Homo sapiens: one gene and its partners. The protein of the gene in region 2 interacts with the protein of the main gene of each other region in a biochemical or structural test. Each region holds a gene or a part of one and is shown on either strand. Other genes may lie near its edges.

Region 1 (7,101 bases), on a different chromosome or scaffold from region 2:
GACCTCAGGTGATCTGCCCACCTTGGCCTCCCGAAGTGCTGGGATTACAGGCATGAGCCACCGTGCCCAGCAATTTTTGTAATTTTTATTTTTGTAGAGACAGAGTCTCCCTATGCTGCCCAGGCTGGTCTCAAATTCCTGGGGTCAAGCGATCCTCCCTAATGTTGAGATTTCAGGCATGAGCCACCACGTTGGCCTGAAATGTACAGTTGAATGGCTAGTGGCTGCTCTAGGGGGGCACTGCAGGCCTAAAGGAAGCGGGTAGCCGGGCCAGGGTGGAGGGCTAAGATAACAGAGCTTTCCCAAGCAGAGCCCAGAGCCCAGGGAAAGGATGCTCCATGCAGAGTCTCGGAAGTGAGAAGCGAGGGAACTGGGAATGGTTGTGAATGGCTGGAGGAAAGAGGCAGGAGGGGGTATAGTGGGAAGTGCAGGAAGTAAGGGTTCATCCCAAAGGTGCGAACTTCATTCCGAGAGGGCTCCCTTTCTCTGCACTTCTGGTCTCAAAGATGGAGAAGGGAGACACATGGGGTGACCTGGCAGAAGCTGGGGAGTCAGGGCCCCGAAGTGCCTGACCTTGGCTGATTCTCCCTGTTACTCATCTAACACTTGCTTGTAGAACAGCAGGCCCTATGCGGGGACCGGGGACTCAGTAGGAAAGGAGACTGATAAAGTCACTACCCTACCCTCAGGCAGGTTTCATAATGACTTCCATGAACCTTAGGCACTTTTGCCCTTCTGCATTAAAAAAAAAAAAAATAGGCCAACACGGTGGCTCATGCCTGTAATCTGAGAACTTTTGGGGAGGCCAAAGTGGGAGGATCGCTGGAGCCCAGGAATTTGAGATGAGCCTGGGCAACATAGCAAGAACTCGCCTCTGCAAAAAAATTTAAAAATTAACTGGATGTGATTGTGCCTGCCTATAGTCCCAGCTACTCAGAAGGTTGGGGTTGGGATCGCTTGGGCCCGGGAGGCCAAGGCTGCAGTGAGCCGTGTTAACGCCACTGCACTCCAGCCCTGTCTCAAAAAAAAAAAAAAAAGTTTAAATTTTATGACTTTGTTGCTGCAAAGACCGATATTATCCAGGGTACAATTTTCTCTTTTCTTTTTTTCTTTCACTTCTACTTTGAAAAGAAATGAAAACACTTCCCCTAAAAGCATCATGGGCCCTAGACACTGTAGGTGCGATGCCTGGGATACATCAGCCCCGCCTTCAGGGAGTTTCTAGGCTAGTGGAGGAAACAGACAGCAAGTAAACAAGATGGTTTCTGGGGAAGAGAGATGCTGTGAAGAAAATGGGACAGAGGGAAGTGCAGTCTGGGTAGGGGGCCGGGGAAGGTCTCGCCGAGGAGAACTTCGCGCTGAAAAGGAACTGTGACAATAAGAGGGAAAGCTGTTGCCGAGAGAACCAGGGCTCGCAGGTGTTCTCCAATGAGGGTAGACCTGGGGCTGACAGAGGAGAAGGAAGAGGTGGGGGTGGAGGTGGACCAAGGGAGCAAGTGGGAAATGGGGGCAGGGCTGGGTCCCGCCTGCAGGACCTGTCTTCGTGTGGGCTTCCCTAGAACGGGAGCCGGAGGTGGGGATTCCTGTACCAAGGGTTTGCTACGGGGGAACCTTCAGGGAGTGTGGGAGACTGGCTGGGGTTGTGGAAGGAAGTCAAGCAGACACGGTTCACGCTGGAGTGGGAACCCATGGGGTCAGGCTGGGCACCCCGGCTTTAGTGCTGCCTCGGGCCTCCGTATCCGTCCATCGTGGGCTGTGGGCTGCTCCAGGAAGCAGGGACACATAACGGACTGGGCGAGTCCAGGACTCTGAAGGAGGGTGATTCTTAAGGGCTGCAGGCAGGTGACCCTCCCAGCAGTGGGTGAGGGATGGGATGCTGCATCCAGGGGGAGGGCAGCTGCAGGGGCACCAGCAGTGCCTGCCATAGAGGGTCTTGTAGACCAGAGTTGGGAGTTTGGTCCCCTCTGATCTCCTCCTAACTGACATGGGATTTCAAGCAGGGGCAATAGCATGCTTTTTGAAAGATGCCTCTGACTCTTGTGTGGAAAACAGACTGGAACAGGGTGGGGGATCAAGGATGGCAGCAGGGAGATGAGGGAAGAGGCTGCTCCATCCCGGAGAACACTGGTGGGGACCTGGATGTGGGCAGTGGCTGGAGGAAGGAAGCAGATCAAGAGTCGATGGAAAATCTGCTTTCTTCTCCTTTCTTTCTCCTTCCTGCCCAGACTTGAGGCTTTTCATTCCCGCAGAATTCCCTTTCGCCTTCTTTTCTTTTTTTTTTTTTTTTTTTTTTTTTGAGACAGAGTCTGGCTCTGTCGCCCAGGCTGGAGTGCAGTGGTGTGATCTTGGCTCACTGTAGCCTCCACCTCTCCACCTCATGGGTTCAAGTGATTCTCAAGCCTCAGCCTCCCGAGTAGCTGGGATTACAGGCGCCTGCCACCATGCCTGGCTAATTTTTGTATTTTTAGTAGAGAGACGAGGTTTTGCCATGTTGGCCAGGCTGGTCTTGAACTCCTGACCTCAGGTGATCCTCCTGCCTCAGCCTCCCAAAGTGCTGGGATTACAGGCGTGAGCCACGTTGCCCGGCCTCCTTCCACCGTCTTCACACTGCTCTCCCTTACGGCAGGGGCTTAGGGAAGGAATGGGGGCAGCCGTATAGTGAAGCCACAAGCCTTTCTGCGCTGACTGATCTCTCTCTATCTTTTCTCTCTCTCCCCCTCTGACTGCCGCTCCAAAGTCGAGCTTCGATCCCCACCACCGTGCCCAGCCAAGTTACGAGCGTCCTTCTTTCCTGCCTCCAGGACCTGGGTTGATGCTCCGGCAAAAATCTATCGGTATGCCACCCAGAAGAAGAGATGTGGGGGCTGGGGGAGGCCAGGAACGTGACAGTTCAGGAAAAGCAAGCAGACTTGGAAATGTTCTGTGCTCCCAGAGAGACCATAGTTTCATCAAATTGGGTTAAGAGTTCAGGCTTTGGAAATGGGTGAACTTGGCCATGAATCCTGGCTCCCCTCCTTCCCAGCTGTGTGAACTGGGGCAGGTGGCTTGACTTCTCTGGGCCTCTGGCTCTACATCTGGAGAATGGGGATGCAGTGAGCTAAAGCCCCCGCTACAGCTTTCTGGTTGTTTCTCTTATACCCGATTCCATCCATTCATTCATTTTACAAGTGTTTACCAAGCGCTCCCCACATGCCAGGAATTGTTCTAGAATGGGGATACGTCAGCGAATAAAACAGACTAAAGGTTCCTGCCCTCATGGGCTTGCCTTATAGCAGGGGAAGACAGATAATGGATTATAAGGAAAATAAGCAAGAAAATTATCTAGTATGTTAGCAGTTGTACGTGCTATGGAAAACAAAAAAAAGAGTGGGCCGGGCGCAGCGGCTCACGCCTGTAATCCCAGCACTTTGGGAGGCCGAGGCAGGCAGATCACAAGGTCAGGAGATCGAGACCATCCTGGTTAACATGGTAAAATCCCATCTCTACTAAAAATACAAAAAATTAGCCGGGTGTGGTGGCGGGCACCTGTAGTCCCAGCTACTCAGGAGGCTGAGGCAGGAGAATGGCGTGAACCCGGAAGGCAGAGCTTGCAGTGAGCCGAGAACGTGCCACTGCACTCCAGCCTGGGCGACAGAGCAACCCTCTGTCTCAAAAAAAAAAAAAAAAAAAAAGAGTGAAAAAAAATAATGGAGTAAGGTAAGAGAGATAGGGAGTGCTGGGTAGGGGGCAGGGTGCAGGTTTGAGCTAAAACCTATAGATGGGCCAGGCACAGTGGCTCACACGTGTAATCCCAGCACTTTGGGAGGCCGAGGCAGGCGGATCACAAGGTCAGGAGTTCAAGACCAGCCTGACCAACATGATGAAACCCCATTTCTACTAAAAATACAAAAATTAGCCAAGCGTGGTGGCATGTGCCTGTAATCCCAGCTACTCAGGAGGCTGAGGCAGGAGAATAGCTTGAACCCGAGAGGCAGAGGTTGCAGTGAGCAAAGATCGCACCATTGCACTCCAGCCTGGGCGACAGAGCGAGACTCTGTCTCAAAAAAAAAGAAAAGAAAAAAAAACACCTAGAGATGAAGTGGGGAATCGTGAGGCTCCCTGGGGTTGAGGCATTCCAGGCAGAGCGAACTACCTCTGCAAAGGTCCTGAGGTCGGGCTGAGTCTGGTGCGTTTACAGAACAGGGAGGAGGCCTGTGTAGCAGGGGCCAAGTGAGCACTGGACATGAGGGCAGTGGGGGGACAGGGTCCCGATCCTGCAGGGTCTGGGGAGTCATGGTGAGGACTTGAACCTTTGCCCTGAGTGAGGTGAGTGAATGGCAGGGCTCTAAGCAGAGGAGGGACATGAGCTGACTTCGGTTTTAACAGAAACCCTCTGGCTGCTGTGAAGGGACTAGATTGAAGGGGATGAGCTGGGAAGCCGGGGGACCAAAGAGGAGGTGACAGCTATTGCTATCCAGATAGGAAATGATAGTGGCTGGCCCAGGGTGTTGACTCTGGAGGGGTGAGAAGGGATTGGATTCCGGATATGTTTTGAAACAACAGGATTTGCTGGTGGATTGGATGTGGGTGACTTGAGGAAGAAAGCTAAGAGTGGCTGCAAGGTTTTCAGTCTTAGCACCTGAAAGGACAGAGCTGCTGTTTGCTGCGGTGGTGGGGAGGGACCGTGGGCTGGGAGGAGTCTGTTGGTGAGGAGATCAGGAGCTTGGGTTGGAGCGTTTGGAGTCTGAGATGCCCGTGAGACAGCCAGCTGGGTGTGGGTATTTGAATATAGGGGCCCAGAGCTCAGGGCGGAGGATGGGGCCCCAGGCATAAACGTGGGCGTCGACAGCAGAAAGGCAGTGAATGAAGCTGGTCACTAGTTGAGAGGGAGTAGTCAGAGGTGAGAAGAGGTTCAAAGACCGAGCCTTGGCAGTGAAGTAAGCAAAGACTTAACTCCTGCACGCCTCCTGGAGTTGTTTTTCCCTGATTGGATTCAGCTTTCCCCAACTCCTGGCGTTCAAAGTCCACCAGTGTGAGTCTTACACTCCCACTGAGTGTGGGGTCCACCTGGCTCGCATCGTTTACCTGATTTTTTTTTTTATAGATCCAATCCCTTTTAAACTTTAGCCTCATCATAAGTGGTTCTCTCTGTAGAATCACAGCTTTGATGTGCTGGTTGCATTTCTTTCCCGCATATACGTGAAAAGAAACACGCATCTATGCATAAACACGAGGGGACTATCCCTTCCCAGCTCCAGCCACTTTTGCTGGCCCCAAACCGTTCACTGAGCCTTTGAACGGAATTAGAAAATGGCGCCCCCTCCTGGCGTGGGGAGGAAGTTCTGCTGAATTTCAGTTTCCTCACCTTCCTTGCGGTTTGCAGTTGTGCAGTGCACAACCTGTACCTCTGTATGAAGCAGATTTGGGTTTACCTCAAATAGGGAAGAGCTGGGCGAGTCCACGTGAAGTTCCTGGCATATACGGGGTGCCATTCTTGTCATTAGTATTGTTGCGGTTCTATGGGATAGTGGAGCAGGGAGACCCTCCCCGCCAGGGTCCCCCTCCTTGAGCCTCTGTATCTCCCCAGGTGCGGCAGAAGATGACAGACCTTACCTAGCACCCCCAGCCATGAAATTCAGCCGCAGCCTGTCTGTGCCTGGTTCGGAGGACATTCCCCCGCCACCCACCACGTCCCCACCGGAGCCTCCCTACAGCACACCTCCAGTCCCCTCCTCCTCAGGGCGCCTCACCCCCTCCCCTCGGGGAGGGCCCTTCAACCCTGGCTCTGGTGGCCCCCTCCCCGCCTCCTCCCCTGCATCCTTTGACGGGCCCTCCCCTCCCGACACTCGCGTGGGGAGCCGCGAGAAGAGCCTGTACCACAGTGGGCCCCTGCCCCCGGCCCACCACCACCCGCCCCACCACCACCACCACCACGCCCCGCCCCCTCAGCCCCACCACCACCACGCCCACCCCCCTCATCCTCCCGAGATGGAGACAGGCGGCTCTCCCGACGACCCTCCACCCCGCCTGGCTCTGGGGCCCCAGCCCAGCCTGCGAGGCTGGAGGGGCGGCGGGCCCAGCCCGACCCCGGGGGCCCCGTCCCCATCGCACCACGGCAGCGCGGGCGGGGGCGGCGGCTCCTCCCAGGGCCCGGCTCTACGCTATTTCCAGCTGCCCCCGCGGGCGGCCAGCGCAGCCATGTACGTGCCCGCCCGCTCGGGCCGCGGCCGCAAGGGCCCGCTGGTCAAGCAGACCAAGGTGGAAGGCGAGCCCCAGAAGGGCGGCGGCCTCCCGCCCGCGCCGTCGCCCACGTCCCCGGCCTCCCCGCAGCCGCCGCCCGCCGTGGCCGCGCCCTCGGAGAAGAACTCCATCCCCATCCCCACCATCATCATCAAGGCCCCGTCCACCAGTAGCAGCGGCCGCAGCAGCCAGGGCAGCAGCACCGAGGCGGAGCCCCCCACCCAGCCGGAGCCCACGGGAGGCGGCGGCGGCGGCGGCTCCTCGCCCAGCCCCGCCCCGGCCATGTCACCCGTGCCCCCGTCCCCCTCGCCCGTGCCCACCCCCGCCTCGCCCAGCGGCCCGGCCACGCTGGACTTCACGAGCCAGTTCGGGGCCGCCCTGGTGGGGGCGGCCCGGAGGGAGGGGGGCTGGCAGAATGAGGCGCGCCGGCGCTCCACGCTGTTCCTGTCCACCGACGCGGGGGACGAGGACGGCGGGGACGGCGGGCTGGGCACAGGGGCGGCCCCGGGCCCGCGGCTGCGCCACTCCAAATCCATCGACGAGGGCATGTTCTCCGCCGAGCCCTACCTCCGACTGGAGTCTGCGGGCAGCGGCGCGGGCTACGGCGGCTACGGGGCCGGTAGCCGAGCCTACGGGGGTGGCGGGGGCAGCAGCGCCTTCACCAGCTTCCTGCCCCCGCGACCCCTGGTGCACCCGCTGACCGGCAAGGCCCTGGATCCCGCCTCCCCGCTGGGGCTGGCCCTGGCCGCCCGCGAGCGAGCGCTGAAGGAGTCCTCGGAGGGCGGCGGGGCCCCCCAGCCGCCTCCCAGGCCCCCATCGCCCCGCTACGAGGCCCCGCCGCCCACCCCGCACCACCACTCGCCCCACGCCCACCACGAGCCA
Region 2 (7,929 bases):
GAGGTTAAAAAAAAAAAAAAAAAAAAAAAGGCTTTGCAAATTTTCAAGTAAATTTACTAATACTTCTGATAATTTAACACCAAAAAACCCCAAACAAATCCTAACCAATTTGTTTAACAGAAACGTCATGCAGGCAGGGTTTTTTTCCCCCTTTCTTTGGATCATTCAACCTCTTTGACACGAATATGCCTTCACTGCAAGCCAGGCAAAACCAAAAAGGCAACCCGTTTTCTGCATGCTCGTCAAATACCTGGACTCTGCGTTTACGAAACGATGACAACATGATGGAGGAATGTGGAGTCTAAAGAGGGAGGGGGAAGAGCAAGATAACAAGCTTCTAAGGGCAAACGGAACAAAATCATGAAGAAAACAGATTATTTAAAAAATATGAATACAGATTAAAAATCCAATTTCAGATATTTTTTCAGTGTCTTCTCTCTGACATTCTGTATAGCGTCTAAATCCCACAAGGGATTTAAAATGTGGAAGGAGAACCAAGGTTCCCAGGTCTTGGCAGTTACTTTCTAGATATGCTGCCCTGGTCAAGTCTCATTCTCCTTGGGGCCTCAATTTCCCCACTTGTTAAAGTAATAATACCGAATATACTTTTTCAAACTAAACATGCCTTCCTCCTGAGGATCCCAGGACAAGATGATTCCTAAATCCCCTTCCATTCAGCAATAAAAGAGCATGACTTCATGAAATTGCCACAAAGTAGAACTCAAGCCACAAAGATCTGACTTGGGCCTAGTTTGCCAGTACACTTACTTTACAAAATACTATTTCCTGTTCAAAATTGGTACAAGAGGAATATGCAAAAAAGGTGGAAGAGAGGTGATGGTTTGCAGCACAGCTGCTCCAGTCAAGTGGCCCCCAGTGATGAGCTATGCAGTCCTCCTCCTCCTCCGCATTCCTGGAGTCAGCATTTGCCACTAGGGCGTTGCATTCTTCTACAGTACAGCCGCAGCTGATATGCTGCAACAGATGAGTGCGTAACTAGTGGGATCCCTGCATAGCCCACGGAGGACTGATTACAAAGGCAGGCCAGCCTTGAACACACTTGTCCATTCTTAGTGTAGATTCAGCAGTGACAGGACATGGGGGACTATTCCTGAGATCCACTTTTCAGGATCTGCAGTTGACCCCCAACTTTGGATGAAGGCAGGTAAGAAAAAGCAGAAAAAATTCTAACCCAGGGAACCAAAAGACATACTTAAAACAGCTCTCCCCATGTGCACCTCTTCATCATATTGCTTGACAGGCTTACACTGCAGCCTGTGACATACCAGATTTCTCCAATTATTAGATGACTACAAAACACACTGCCAAGACCAAAGCATATCAGAGAATCAGTTACTAGGCTGATGGTTTGCCATAAGAACTGCTTCACACTTGTCCAGGATGAAGCAAAAATCCTCCTTTCCAGTCTCTCCATCAAGGTCCCTGGATAACAGTTAACACACTTTGAGGGTCCCTTTGAGTAATTATTGGCCCAGTTACTAAAAAAGGCTTATTGTTAATTTCCTGCACAGAGGCCTTTACTGCAGCACTTTTTTTTTCCTCCGCAGCACATTCAATTTGACCTTTCAAAATCTAAGACATTAGTTAGCTGCAATGAAAGGGAAAATAAACGACTAGTTAAGGAGTCGGAACCTTGACTCAATGGCTTCATATAGCTGAGTGTTCCTCCTGCTATTTCCAAGATTTTCTGTTTCCTGGCTCCAAGACACCCCCACCCTTCCATCTTTGATACATTCTGTTTTACTTAAGGCCAATTGCTATGACGACGCAATTTCTCAACACATTATGAAAATACTTCATATGGCCTCTCTCCTGTTCTTCCCGAACAGCCATGATGGTAAGTTTTTCTAAAATAACATGATGAAGACAGAACAAAGGGCTTAAATATTTTAGGATCTATTATATAAAAGAGATCTGATTAGATGTTGGAACAGTTCAAGCATCATCTCAACCCAGCTTTCTGAGCTATTTAGGCTTTTCATTTAAAACATATTCAACTTTTAACAAGGCGCTTATTTAAAATATATTTTACTCTAGTACATCAGAGACTTTTGAAAGCGATGTTCTAGGGGAAGCGTCTAATCAAATTCTCAGGGACAGCTTTCAAACAAAAGACTGTTCTATCATTCAACAGTGGTATGGTAGAATTTTTGACACTGTATCTCGACTCGAAAGACCCAGTCCCAGGAAACACACACACAAACAAGAACGCTAAGCTATTAAGTTATTTGATTTGAGCCACATACCATGCAAGCACTGCATTTACCTATTATTTACAAGCAAATCACAACTAGGAAGAAAGAAAAATGTTTATTACAAGGAAAGAAAAGGAGACGGCCAGTCTCAGACCCTTCTGCGTTCAGAGAGACGGCAGAGATTCGCCATGCAGGATGAAATTAAGGTCAGAGAGCCGTTTACGCTATGCTCGGGCTCCCCGGGCTCTTCCTCCCTCTACGGCTGGCCGGCATTGCTGGTGCGATTCGGAAGAACGAGCTGCAGAAGTCGCTCCCGGCCGAGGGAAGGGACCGGGGGCGGTGCGGGGAGCGTTCTGCAGGGAGGCGGCTGGCGAAGATCCCGACGAGGGAGCCCCCACCCACCTGCCGCAGCCGGATGGGGCAGGGCAGGGCCGCGCCGCAGCCAGGCTTGGGGGTGGTTGGGAGGGACCCGGCGGCCTCGCGCCCCCTCCCCCCGTCAGTGACATTCCAGCGGCGGCGCCGAGCCTCGGCCCGGCTGCTCCTCCGCAGCCCACGCGCCACAAAAGCAGCGGCAGCGGCTTCCCCCACTCAGCCGAATGGAGGCAGCCCCGCGGCCCGCCCGGCTCACCTGTCCGCGCGCCGGCCCCGCCCCGCCTGAAGAGCTGCCCAGCTCCCACCCGGGGGTCGGCTGCCCGGGGCCCCGCTCCCTCCCGGAGCTCCCCGGCTGCCCCTCTCACCGGCTCTCGGGGGGTGAGGGGCGTGGGTGCGTCGGGCCGAGGGGTGCTGAAGGACCGAGGAGCCTCCGCGGCCTCCGCTCCACACCGTTCACTCCGCAGCGGGTAGTGGCGGCGACGCGCGCGCCCCGCCTCTTTTATAAGCGGCTACGCGCGCTCCCGCGGCGGGCGGGCGCGAGCGCCGGGGGAAGCGCCCCGGCGCTGCGCGAGGGGTGGGGGAGCGCGCCGGCGGAGCAAAGGGGGCGGTGCTCCCGCCGGCTCGCCGCCCGACCGCCCGGCGGAAAGGGCCGAGCGATCCCGGAAGGAGCCGAAGCGACAATGCGGGGGAAGAGGTGAGCGAGGGGCGGGCCGCGGGAGGATGGGGAAATGGGGCGCGCGCAAGGGGTGAGGGGTGATGGTGCAGTGAGGTCACTGCCTACGCCCTGGCGGTAGAGACGCTCCCGCCTCACCTCCCTCCCCGCAGCTTGCGCCCCGCCACCGCCCGCCCTGCGGACAGTCGTCTGCATCGCACCACTCCGCCCTGGGAGCTCTTCCAGGACTGCGGAGAAGGGCGGGGCGGGGGTATCGCTGCAGTCTGGCTGGGGATGCTGCGCGCCCCGGCCGGAAAAACGCCCAGTCCCAAAGGGTGAGATCACCCGAGTGCGTCTCTTCCTGCTCACTTTCCCGAGGAGGAGGCTGGCGCTGGGGTCCCAAGTCAGCCTAATTCGGTGGGGGCTGGGGTCAAGAAGACGCGGATGATTTGGGGCCCCGGGTTTGAGGAGGTGGTGAGAGGAAAAGGCCAAATCCGAATCAGAAAAAAAATTAAGTCGACTAATTTGGGGCATAAAGCTGTCATTCTGGGATTTGGAGAGTTAATTTCTTATGTTCTTGGAGATTATGGGGGAGGAAACGGCAGCGGCAAAATAATAATTTCTTACATTCCTGCAACAAAAGCTTTCTCACAGGTCGCCAGTGGAATAGGCTACATTCATCCTATTTCATAAACAAGACATTAAGGTTCTTTCTGGCACAATTAATCGAACTTGCCTTGTGTACTAGGCACTATGCTAAGTATTTCGTGTTACCTTTTCATTTCTTAATCTTTGCAATAATTTTATGAGATGTTTTCCCATTTTACAAATGGGCACTCTTACATAATGCTCATGTAGGCTAAGTCTCTTGGCCCAGGTCAGGCAGCTACCAATTGGAAGAGCTAGGATTTACATCTCAGCAGTCAGAACCTTCCCTTTGCAACCGTATGTGTATTGCCTTCAAATAGGAAAGGGAGGCATTTTGATGCGGGTGGCTGCTGGGGTGCAGAAAGAGAAAAATAAGATTCTCAGAATTTCTGATACTTAAAGTCCTAGCAGTTTAAGGTCCTGGCTCTAAACTCTGTAGCCAGAAGCCCTGGATTAGGAAGCCCTTTCCCTATCCCCATTCCGGTGACAGCTGGGCCGCAGCCACTGGGAGTAACACCCAGATCATTCCTGTGCAGTCAGGCAGACGGGGAGCTCTGCAGCTTAGGAAGGCTTCAGCCTCCTGGTTACCAAGCAGCTCTCCTCTTTAAATAAATATAAAGTCATTGGACACTGCACCAGAATCTGGGCCCAGACCTGGCCCTGAGCTTCCTGGCCCTCTGCAGTTTGGCTTCTTTCCCCGTGCCTGGGACCTGCAATACGGTTTCTAAGCTGTCCTGGCTGTAGCCATGATACTGAGGAAAAATTTCCCTACCCACTCACTCCATTGGAGTGGAGAGAAAAGCAGTGACCACACCCCAGAAGCTGCTTTAGAGAATCTGTGTAGGAGAAACGTAGGAGCTGAGAGGCATTTCCTGCAATCTTCTATGTAGAGAAAACAGCGCTGAGCAACTCCTCCCTGGAGTGTGCATTTCTGAGAACAGCTGATGGTATCCGTGGCCTCTTCTCCAGCAGGTTGCAGTAAAATGTTTGATCAGATATTCAGCTCTGGGTACAAAATGGCTAACACAATTGTAGCTCCCTAAAATTTCCAAGACCTTCTGCTCCAGCAAAGAAAGCACCTTGGGACTGAGGGGCAGGAGCTGTTCAAAAGGGAGGGTTTTTCTATTAAATCACCCTGGCCCCATAGTGAACTGGGGGTTCTGCTGCTTTTGCTGGATGCAAAATGGAGACCTAAGAGAGAGCTCTGTATTGATAGAGAAACTAAAATCTTATTTGATTCTTTGTGTGATCTGAGACATGACCAAGAAACAGTATCCCCAGCGCTCTCCACCTCCCACCCACTCACCCTGCCTTCTCTGCACTTGGCACTTGAAACCAGCCATTCTTCACTGTTCTGTTGTCTGCCTACCTCACCTCCCACCAGTTTCACCATATGCCTAACACCCTAGTAGGTGTGGAAAGCTGGGGGAAAAAACAACAACAGAAAAAGCACAGGACAGTGTAACGACTTTGTAACCAATCAACTCCATGTTCTCAGTCACACCTCTCCTGGCCTCCTAAAAAGCAGAGGGTTGGACTGAATTCTCAACTCCTTTTTCTAGTTTCAGCAATCCTCAGAAGGTTTGATAGGCACCCTAAGCTTAAGCGTCTAGATAGTCCCAATACTTTTTCAGGTTGTTGAAAAGGTCAACTGTTGGAAAACACACTAATTGTGGTGATGTGTCCATATGTTCCAGCCAGGGAAAGTCACTTGCCCACTCTCCCTGGGAGAGACCCCTTCCCCTCCCCTCCCCTCCACACCCTGTCTCACCCCCTGCAAAGATAACAGGCAAGCACTTCCACTATTTTTCTTCCCTAGAAGGGAGCTGATTGGGAAGAGTCATGCTGGCAAGTGGACTGCACTTCCCATATGACATTCTGCAGTGTCAGAGCTGGCAAGAAATAACACAGCTCTTCAAATCACAGTGCCTGGATGAACCTTGAAGGCTTTATGCTAAGTGAAATACGCCAGACACATAAGGATGAATACTGTATGACCATTCCACTTATATGAGATCCCTAAAATTGTCAGATTCATAGAGACAGAAAAAACTGTTGTTACCAGGGTCTGAGGGGAGGGAGGAATGGGTTATTATTGTTTAGTGGGAAAGTTTCCGTCTGGGATGGTGAAAGAGAGTTCTGGAGAGGATGGTGGTGATGGTTGCACAACACTGTGACTGTACATAATGCCACAGAACTGTACACTTACAAATGGTTAGGCAGGGCTTGGTGGCTCACGCCTGTAATCCCAGCACTTTGGGAGGCTGAGGCGGGCGGATCACTTGCGGTCAGGAGCTTGAGACCATCCTGGCCAACATGGTGAAACCCTGCCTCTACTAAAAATACAAAAATTAATCGGGTGTGGTGGTGCACACCTGTAATCCCAGCTACTCGGGAGGCTGAGGCAGGAGAGTCGCTTGAACCCGGGAGGCGGAGGTTGCAGTGAGCCAAGATCGCGCCATTGCACTCCAGACTGGGCGACAGATTGAGACTCCGTCTCAAAAAAAAAAAAAAGGTTAAACTTTTTATGTTCTATATATTTTACTACAATCAAAAGACAAAGCAAAACACAAGCCCCTGCTTCTAAAATCAAGCACCACATTAGAGAAGCAGCCTGATAGGCTCTGGGAGTGTGGCCTTACCAGGGTTTTAAGACTCCAGGTGACAGCAGAGATGTAAACTCCTCCCTCCCCTCCCCTAATCCGACCTTGTAATCTGGCTCCGGTCATTTCACATCTGTTCCCTTGCAGGGCTGCCTGCTAGGCCTGGTCAGTCCGTGTCCCTCCTGCTTACCTTGAACCCACTACTACAGTTAGTTTCACAAATCACGTCAAACCTTCTCAACAAGTTTCAGTTGTTTCCCATTGCCTACGGAATAGGCCGAAATTTGCAGCCTCCACAATCTTGTTCCAATTTACCTTTTCACAGCATCATTCCCTACAGTTCTGCTCTACTGGTCTGAGGTTAGCCTCTTTCCAAAACATGTTATTTCTCCAACTCCATGCTTTTGTGAACAATTTTTTCCTCCAATTAGAACATCCTTTCCCAACACTCATGCCTCCTTTCTGCCTGAAAATCTTACCCATTTTGAGTATATGTAAGTAGAACCTTTCTGGAAGAGCAGTTGGCAATGTGGATCAAAATATAAAATTTGCATGCCATTTGACCCAGCAATGTTAGTTACATCTAGAAATCTGCCTTAAGCAGGACAAGATGCATTTTCATTCAGGACGGGCGTGGTGGCTCACACCTGCAATCCCAGCACTTTAGGAGGCTGAGGCAGGCAGATCACTTGAGCCCAGGAGTTTAAGACCAGCCCGGGCACCATGGCAAAACCCCATCTCTACAAAAAAATGCAAAAATTAGCCAGATGTGGTGGCTTGCGCCTGTAGTCCCAGCTACTCAGGAGGCTGTGGGAGGATCACCTAAGCGCGGGAGGTCAAGGCTGCAGTGAGCCATGACTGTGCTACTGCATTCCAGCTCAGGCAATAGAGTGAGACCTTGTCTCAAAAAAAAAAAAAAAAAAAAAAAGAATGTTAATAATTTAAAAAAATATATTAGGCATAACCTAGTCACCAAGTGAAAAATGATTAATTACGATTCATAAATTCAAGACTATATTCATGATATAATACTTATTGACTTGAGAAAATATTTGAAGTGTTACTGAATTTTAGGTTACATGAATGGTACTCAGTCCATTTAAGTAAGAATTATAGGCTGGGCGCAGTGGCTCACGCCTGTAATCCCAGCACTTTGGGATGCCAAGGAGGGTGGATCACCTGAGGTCAGGAGTTCGAGACCAGCCTGACCAACATGATGAAACCTCGTCTCTAGACTAGAATTTCAACCCCAGCTTTCCTGGGTTTCCAGCTTGCAGATGGCAGATTGTGGGACTTCTCAGTCTCCATAATCTCATGAATAAATTCCTCGTAATTAAATCTCATCATATCCCTGTCCATCCATCCGTCTCCTATTGGTCTGTTTCTCTGGGGACCCTAATACAGTGAACTTCCATAGGCCTGTCACCCAGCTCCAACA
Region 3 (6,970 bases), on a different chromosome or scaffold from region 2:
CTCGAGACATACTAGCTACATGATCCTGGAAAAGTTATCGCCTCTGAGCCTCAGTTTCCCTATCCATAAAAAGGAGCAGCGGTGCCTTCTTCACGGAAGACTTAAACAAGAGCACAGGCAAAGCCTTTAGGGAGTCACTGAACAAACAGGGTTCCTCCTCAGGCACGGAGAGGTGGAAAAGCTCTGGGGCCTGGGCTTTCCGGAACTAGCCCCCTTTTAGGCCATGGCCCCCTGGCTCTTCCCTCCCTATTCAAGGGGGTTAGGGGCACCTGTGTCATTGGATGAGCAGTGAAAATGTGGCATCCAGATCCTACAACCACAAGATGGGCAGGACTGGTTCTCACAATCACGGGCTTTGTTTCTGAGATGCCACAAAGGCCACGTTTCCCAGGGCAGGGTCGGGGCCGAAGGCGTCTGGGGTCAGAAGCGACCAAGGACTCGAGGTACCATCTGAGGGGTCGGGGCCAGGACAACGGGGGGCGGGGCGGGGTGGAGGCGGCCCTAGGAGCCCAGGTTGCGGAGAGTGTGGGTGGCGGGTACTGAACTGGCCAATCGGAGGCCAGGGAGGAGCGGATTGGAGGAGCGAGGGAAGGGGGCGAGACTGCGCCCCTGCAGACTGGAGCAGGTGGGTGTGGCGCTGGGCCAAAGTGGATCCGCACTGTGGGTTCCGCACCCTGGGTTCCGAGGGCCACCTCCACCCGCGCAAGGCGGGCAAGGACAGAGTAGGGTAAGGGGCTCTCTAACCAGGCAGAAGGAGGGAACACCCAAGAGTCCTTCGGGCAGGGCTGGGGCCTCCAAGGCTGGAGAGTCTCATCCAGGGTTGCTGGGCATGTCCCTCCCAAAGGCAGCTCATTGAGAATTGATTGGTGTGACTTGAAAAATGGGCCCTGGGCACACCGTCAGGAAAAGCTGGTTTACGTAGACTTAATCCCGAGTCTTTCTTTTCTGCTGGGCTCAGTCAGACCTTGCCAAAGCGCAGGAGGAGTTGGGGGATAGGAGGCTTGACACGTGGAGAAGGCCACACGTGCTGATCTGTTTTCCCCAGCGAACACTCCTTTCTCAGATGGGGCAACTGAGACCGACCTCCGGGAGGAGTGGAATTTGTCCCACAGGATATAACACAAAAGTCTTTCTGTTCTTTCAAGCACTTTCCACCTGATACATACAACCACCTAGGAAAACTGCCAGCCGAAATACCTGCCCAGCCCAGTCACTTCACACATGACAGACCCGAGATGGCACTGAGAGGTCAAATACCTGCTAGAGGGAGGGCTGGCCCCACAGGGTGTGGCCCTAACTGCAGGTATTGTGGGTCATCCTTCCGCATCTCCCCCAGTGCCTGCTGCCCCTCCTCCCCAGGGGAGCCCTCACCTGGAAATGGAAGATGCCGGCATAGCCATTCTGGAAGCTCTGGCCGTGCGGAACCACTCGGTGCAGGAGGGTGTCGTTGAGAGTGAGGGAGGCGATGGCCGCCAAGAGCCAGCAGTCCCCTGGGGCAGGAGGGATGCACATTAGCCTGCTCTACCAACCTGCCCCGGGGGGGGAAGCGGGTGCTAGGGAGAATCTGGGGTTCCTTGGCCAGGGTGCCACTTAACTCCCCTCAGCTTGCAGAAAAGACCCAGGAATCTGGGCAAACCAGCCCCAGCGCTGATAGCCAGATCCTGCCTGGGCTTGCAAGAGGGAGGGGTTGGGGCAGAGCCTGAAGGAGCGGGAATGGGGAACTACTGTGGAAAAAATACCCGGGACCCGACGCCCTGGGGGCCTACCCAGTGCTCCCTGGCAGATGTCTGTGCGGGTAGCTCCATCCACAATGAACTGGGGGTTTGACAGCAGTTCCTACGAGAGACCCAGAGTCCTGTTCCTCGGCCAGCCCCTCCCAGAAATTGGCACCAGGCCACCCCAGACCCCATTCCCCACCAGGGACATGGAGTCCCATCCCTACTCCTCATCCAGGATCTGGCTTAGCCGAGTCCCACCCAGGATGGCCCCTCTCACCGTGGGACGCTTCCACTTGATGCCATAGGTCTTGGAGGAATTGGGACCCAGGTCCTTGTAACCCAGGCTCTGGGGTACCGGGGGGAAGGCCTCATCACGGAAGAGGGTCCCACTCTGCAGGCATCGCACCCGCAGCTGCTCATAATCCTGGCCCAGGTACTTGATGGCATTCTCATGGCGGCCCAGGCCCAGCTCCCTGGCCCGCTGCTTCTGCACTTGGGCTGACACCCCAGTGCAGTACACCGGCGTGATGATCTCCTCCGACATCCTGCCGGACAGATGGGCCTGCTCAGAACCCAGGCCTTCCCAAGACTAGAACCTGGGCTCCTGCCTGCAAGCTCTGCTCTCCTGCCCCTGCTTATCCATCCCCAAACCTAGGGTTTCCCTGCCTCACTGCTCCCCTCACAGAAGTAGGGTTCTCAGCCACCTCCCGGTGCTCCCAGTGAATCCAGGAAAGGGATTTCCCAGTTCCCAGGCGTGCCGGCCACCTCTCCTTTCCCGGATCCCATTGTCAGGGGCTTGCAGCTCTGTAGTGAGCCAGCAGGTCAGGTGGGGCAGGGCGGAGCCTCCAGACAGCACAAGGAACTGGGCAGGTGGGACACAGCAGGGAAGGCCTCTTTGATCCTGTTCACAGGCCTGCAACCCCCTCCCCAAACTAACCAAGCTCCTGGTGCACCGGCCCCTTGCCGTGGGCTGAAAACCCCAGACGGTCGGGGTCCCCCTCCTCAGGCCCCCGCAGCAGGCTCGATATCAGAGCTGGTGGGCCCTAGCCCAGCCCCTGGGGACAGCGGTGAGCCAGGCTGGGACAGGCGCCTGGGCTGTGCCGCTCCGCCAGCCCCCACCCCTGCTCCAGGAACGCAGAGGCCCCCGAGAAGGGACCGTGCTGGGGCAGCCCCTCAGCCCAGGAGCAGTGGCCAGGGTCAAGGAATCCCGGCTCGGCTACCCAGCTTCTTACCTGGGGGAGGGGTGTTTGGGGGTCGCTGCAGTCCCTGAGGCTGGCTTCCCGGTGGCAGCTCAGGGCAGGGCCCAACCAGGAAGAGCGCTCCTCCCCGCCCTCCTCCCGCCGCCCCTCCGCCCTCCGCCCTCCCTCTCTCCTTCTCCTCCTCCTCCTCCTGGGGCTCCTACCCCGCTTCCTCTCGGCTCTCCCTTATCTCTCCGGCACGGTCTCTGACTATCTCTTACTCACGGTGTCTCCCCGCCCCTCCCTCCGCAGGCCGGGGGCCAATTCCGCGAGAGGACAAATTAGTAAAAGGCAGAGCAGTCCCCGGGGAGGGGCCAGCGCGGGGGGGGATGGGGGGGCTGGGGCGCGGCGGAAGGGCACCGCGGGGAACGGAGGGGGAGGGCCGGGCAGGGGGTATTTTTAACCAGGGGCAGCAGCTCGAGTTGCAGGGCCGGACGGCCGCACCCCACGCGCGCCCTGGCGGGCATTCCGGGGCGATTGTGCGGCGGCGCCGCCTCCCGCAGCCCCGGGCCCGCCCGGTCCCCAGCTCCCCTCGCTCCGCGCGACCGCAGCTGCTCCCGCCGTTCCCAGCCAGCCCCGGCGCGGGGCCGAGATTACCTCGGGCTGCGGCAGCTGCTCTGAGGAGGGGCCGGGCTGGCAGCGAGCAGACCCCTGCCGGACACTCAGCAAACGGCAGCCTCACCCCGCAGGGCCGCGCCACTCCCCTTCCCCACCCCACCGCCGCGTCCCGGCTCAGCGCTCCCCGGGGAACGCAGGGGGACCGGGCTCGCTGCGTGACCTTGGGTAAGTCCCTGCCCCGTTCGGCCCGACTTTCCGCATGCGTGCATCCTATGGGATGGGGTTGGGCAATTGTGGGAGCCCATCTTTCTCTAACGTTCTGGGGTTTCTTGAACCTGGAAACTTAGAGAGGTGGACATCCCTGTTCTCTCCCCCAGGCTCTCAGCCCACCCACCTGGAAGCGCCCATGTGTCACCTTACCCAGGAGAGGGCGGCAGAGGCTGCGAGCAGGACGGCAGCCCCCTCTCCCCACCCCCAGGACCCTGAGATCCTGCTTCACGGGCTGCAAGAAGTTGGGGGGCCAGGATTCGGCGCGGAGGCCGGGGGTGTGGGTGGGGAGACTGCAGAGACTCCCGAGACCCCCCCAAGTCAGGGCTTTTCGCTGGTCTCGCAGCCCCAGCCCAGCAGCTGCTGCAGTCTTGCATGTTGTGGATGCAAGCATTTTGCTGAGGAAACTGCATAGCGTTCCCAGGACTCTAGGGCCCACGACCCCTCAAAAGTTAAGAGCCGCTGATCTAATCTAACCCCACTTTCACCCTCAGTTAACAAAAGAGGAAAACTGAGGCCTGAGAGGGTGTGACTTGCCTGAAATACCTAACCTGGTGAGTGATGGGTGGAACCAGCTCCTAGGCTTTCTGCGCAGGTGTCCAGGGACAGAGAAGGGTGGTTTAAACTAGAGAGGTGGCAGGCAGAAGTAGATGGATTTGATAACTATTTAGGATACACCATCAAAATTTAACTCAAACTGGATTACACACCTAAATATAAATGGCCAAACCATAAAACTTTTTTTTTTAAAAATGGAGACAATCTTAACAATATTGGGTTTGAAAAGATTTCTTTTTTCTTTTCTAAAGGCAGGGTCTTGCTTTCATTGACCAGGCAGGAGTGCAGTGCCCTGATCACAGCTCACTGTAACTTTAAACTCCTGGGCTCAAGAGATCCTCTCACCTCAGCCTCCTGAGTAGCTGAGACTACAGGCACGTGCCACGACACACAGCTAATTTTTAAATTTTTTGTAGAAATGGGGTCCTGCTGTGTTACTCAGGCTGGTCATGAACTCCTGGGCTCAAGCAGTCCTCCTGCCTGAGCCTCCCAAAGTGCTGGGATTACAGGTGTGAGCTTTGGCACCTGGCCAGATTTCTTAAATATGACACAAAAAGTGTAAATGATAGAAGAAATCAATAAATTGAACTTCATCAAAATAAAACGCTTTTGTTTCTCAAAATGCACGAAACTATTAAAAATGAAAAGATAAGCCATAGACTAGGACGAATATTTGTAAAAATTCTATCTGATGTAGGACTTGTATAAAGAACTTTTACAATTGAATAAAAATCCAATAAAAATGGACAAAACATTTGTTTGTTTTCTGGTGTTTGTTTTTGTTTTTGAGATGGAGTCCCGCTCCATCACCCAGGTTGGAATGCAGTGGCGCGATCCTGGCTCACTGCAACCTCCACCTCCTGGGTTCAAGCAATTCTCCTGCCTCAGCCTCCCCAGTAGCTGGGATTACAGGCGCCCGCCACCACACCAGGCTAATTTTTGTATTTTTAGTAGAGACAGGGTTTCACCATGTTAGCCAAGCTGGTCTCAAACTCCTGACCTCAAGTGATCTGCACGCCTCTGCCTCCCAAGGTGCTGGGATTACAGGGTGAGCCACCGCGCCTGTCAAAAAATGGACAAAACATTTGAACAGACACTTCATCCAAAAAGATCTCTGGATGGCAAATAGGCACATTAAAAAACACTGAGTGCATTACTCTTAGGGAAATGCAAATTAAAGCCACTAGAAGGACTGCTTCTAAAAGAACACCTACTAGAATGGCTAAAAGTTAAGATCAACCATACCAAGTGTTGTTATGTTGTCAAGGATATAGAAGAACTGGAGCTGTCATACACCAAGAGAGGGTAAAATGATCACCACCACTTTGGAAGACAGTTTGGCAATTTCTTTAAAATTTAGCGATACAAAGAAATCAGCCATCAAGCTACAAAAAGACATAGCATAACCTTAAACGCATATTGCTAAGTAAAAGAGGCTGGTATTAAAAAGCTGCATACTGTATGATTCCAATAACTCTATATGACGTTCTAGAAAAGGCAAAACTAGCAATGGTAAAAAGATCAGCAGTTGCCAGGGATTCAGAGGGGTAGGAGAGGGATGGAGCACAGGGCATTTTTAGCACAGCGAAACTATTCTGTATGATACTGTAATGACGGATGCATGACATGCATTTATCCAAACCTGCAGAATGTACAACACTAAGAGTGAACCTTAATGTAAACTATGGACTTGAATTAATAATATTGTGTCAATATTGGTTCATCAGTGATTACAAATATACCACAGGCTGAGCGCAGTGGCTCACCCCTGTAATCCCAGCACTTTAGGAGGCTGAGGTGGGCGGATCACATAAGGTCAGGAGTTCGAGAGACGAGCCTGGCCAATATGGCGAAACCCTGTCTCTACTAAAAAATACAAAAATTAGCTGGACGTGGTGGTGGGCTCCTGTAGTCCCCACTACTAGGGAGGCTGAGGTAGGAGAATCACTTGAACCCAGGAGATGGAGGTTGCAGTGAGCCAAGATCACACCATTGCACTCCAGCCTGGGCGACAAGAGCAAAACTCCGTCTCAAAAAAAAAAAAAAAATAGAACTTAGTCACTGGTTAGATATGGCTCTTGGACACCAGGAGAGACCAAAGACAACTTCAGACCCTGGATCTGGCTTGAGCACCTGAGTAGATTAAAGAGAAGGGGGAATGCACTAAGCTGGAGGGACAGTATGGGATCAGGGTATGGGGTATCTTTGGGATCCCCCTATCCAAGAGGAGATTCCTAGGGGTGAGGAACAGACCTTGTGCTCAAAATAGAGGTACAAATTTGGGAGTCACTAGCCACCAAAAAGCAGAGGCAAGGGGGCTGACACCTTGGTCTTCATATGAAGATGCTTCATATAGATGTCAATTCTCCTTAAATTAATCTCTAAGTGTATCACAATGAAAAATTTTAAGAGTCTTCTGGTGGGAGATAAGGAGGGACTAGAAAAGCTGATTTAAAGGTCATATGGCAAATTAAACAAGTAGGAAACTTCTGAAAATAAAAGACATAATGAGTATAGACTAATCCTACCAGATATTAAAACACAACAAATCTATCATTAAAAGGTAATAATTAAAGAGGGTTACTGACACATAGAGATCAATAGAAGACAGAGAAATTTAGAAACAGATTC

The links.
Region 1: the proteins of SPTAN1 (region 2) and SHANK1 form a complex in vitro, tested with the Homo sapiens proteins (one study listed by BioGRID).
Region 3: of the proteins of SPTAN1 (region 2) and CAPN1, one has a biochemical effect on the other in vitro, tested with the Homo sapiens proteins (one study listed by BioGRID).

The regions. Positions count from the first base shown.
Region 1 is NC_000019.10:50,667,751-50,674,851, reverse strand, and holds part of SHANK1 (SH3 and multiple ankyrin repeat domains protein 1), read left to right. Parts: intron 1-2,737; coding exon 2,738-2,834; intron 2,835-5,566; coding exon 5,567-7,101. UniProt on the Homo sapiens protein: Seems to be an adapter protein in the postsynaptic density (PSD) of excitatory synapses that interconnects receptors of the postsynaptic membrane including NMDA-type and metabotropic glutamate receptors via complexes with GKAP/PSD-95 and Homer, respectively, and the actin-based cytoskeleton.
Region 2 is NC_000009.12:128,547,721-128,555,649, reverse strand, and holds the start of SPTAN1 (spectrin alpha chain, non-erythrocytic 1), read right to left. Parts: upstream 3,064-7,929; 5' UTR 2,954-3,063; exon of another isoform or gene 2,339-2,953; intron 302-2,338; exon of another isoform or gene 284-301; coding exon of another isoform or gene 251-283; intron 1-250. UniProt on the Homo sapiens protein: Fodrin, which seems to be involved in secretion, interacts with calmodulin in a calcium-dependent manner and is thus candidate for the calcium-dependent movement of the cytoskeleton at the membrane.
Region 3 is NC_000011.10:65,177,994-65,184,963, reverse strand, and holds the start of CAPN1 (calpain-1 catalytic subunit), read right to left. Parts: upstream 3,037-6,970; 5' UTR 2,951-3,036; intron 2,513-2,950; exon of another isoform or gene 2,423-2,512; intron 2,264-2,422; 5' UTR 2,263-2,263; coding exon 1,996-2,262; intron 1,837-1,995; coding exon 1,767-1,836; intron 1,491-1,766; coding exon 1,372-1,490; intron 1-1,371. UniProt on the Homo sapiens protein: Calcium-regulated non-lysosomal thiol-protease which catalyzes limited proteolysis of substrates involved in cytoskeletal remodeling and signal transduction. Proteolytically cleaves CTBP1 at 'Asn-375', 'Gly-387' and 'His-409'.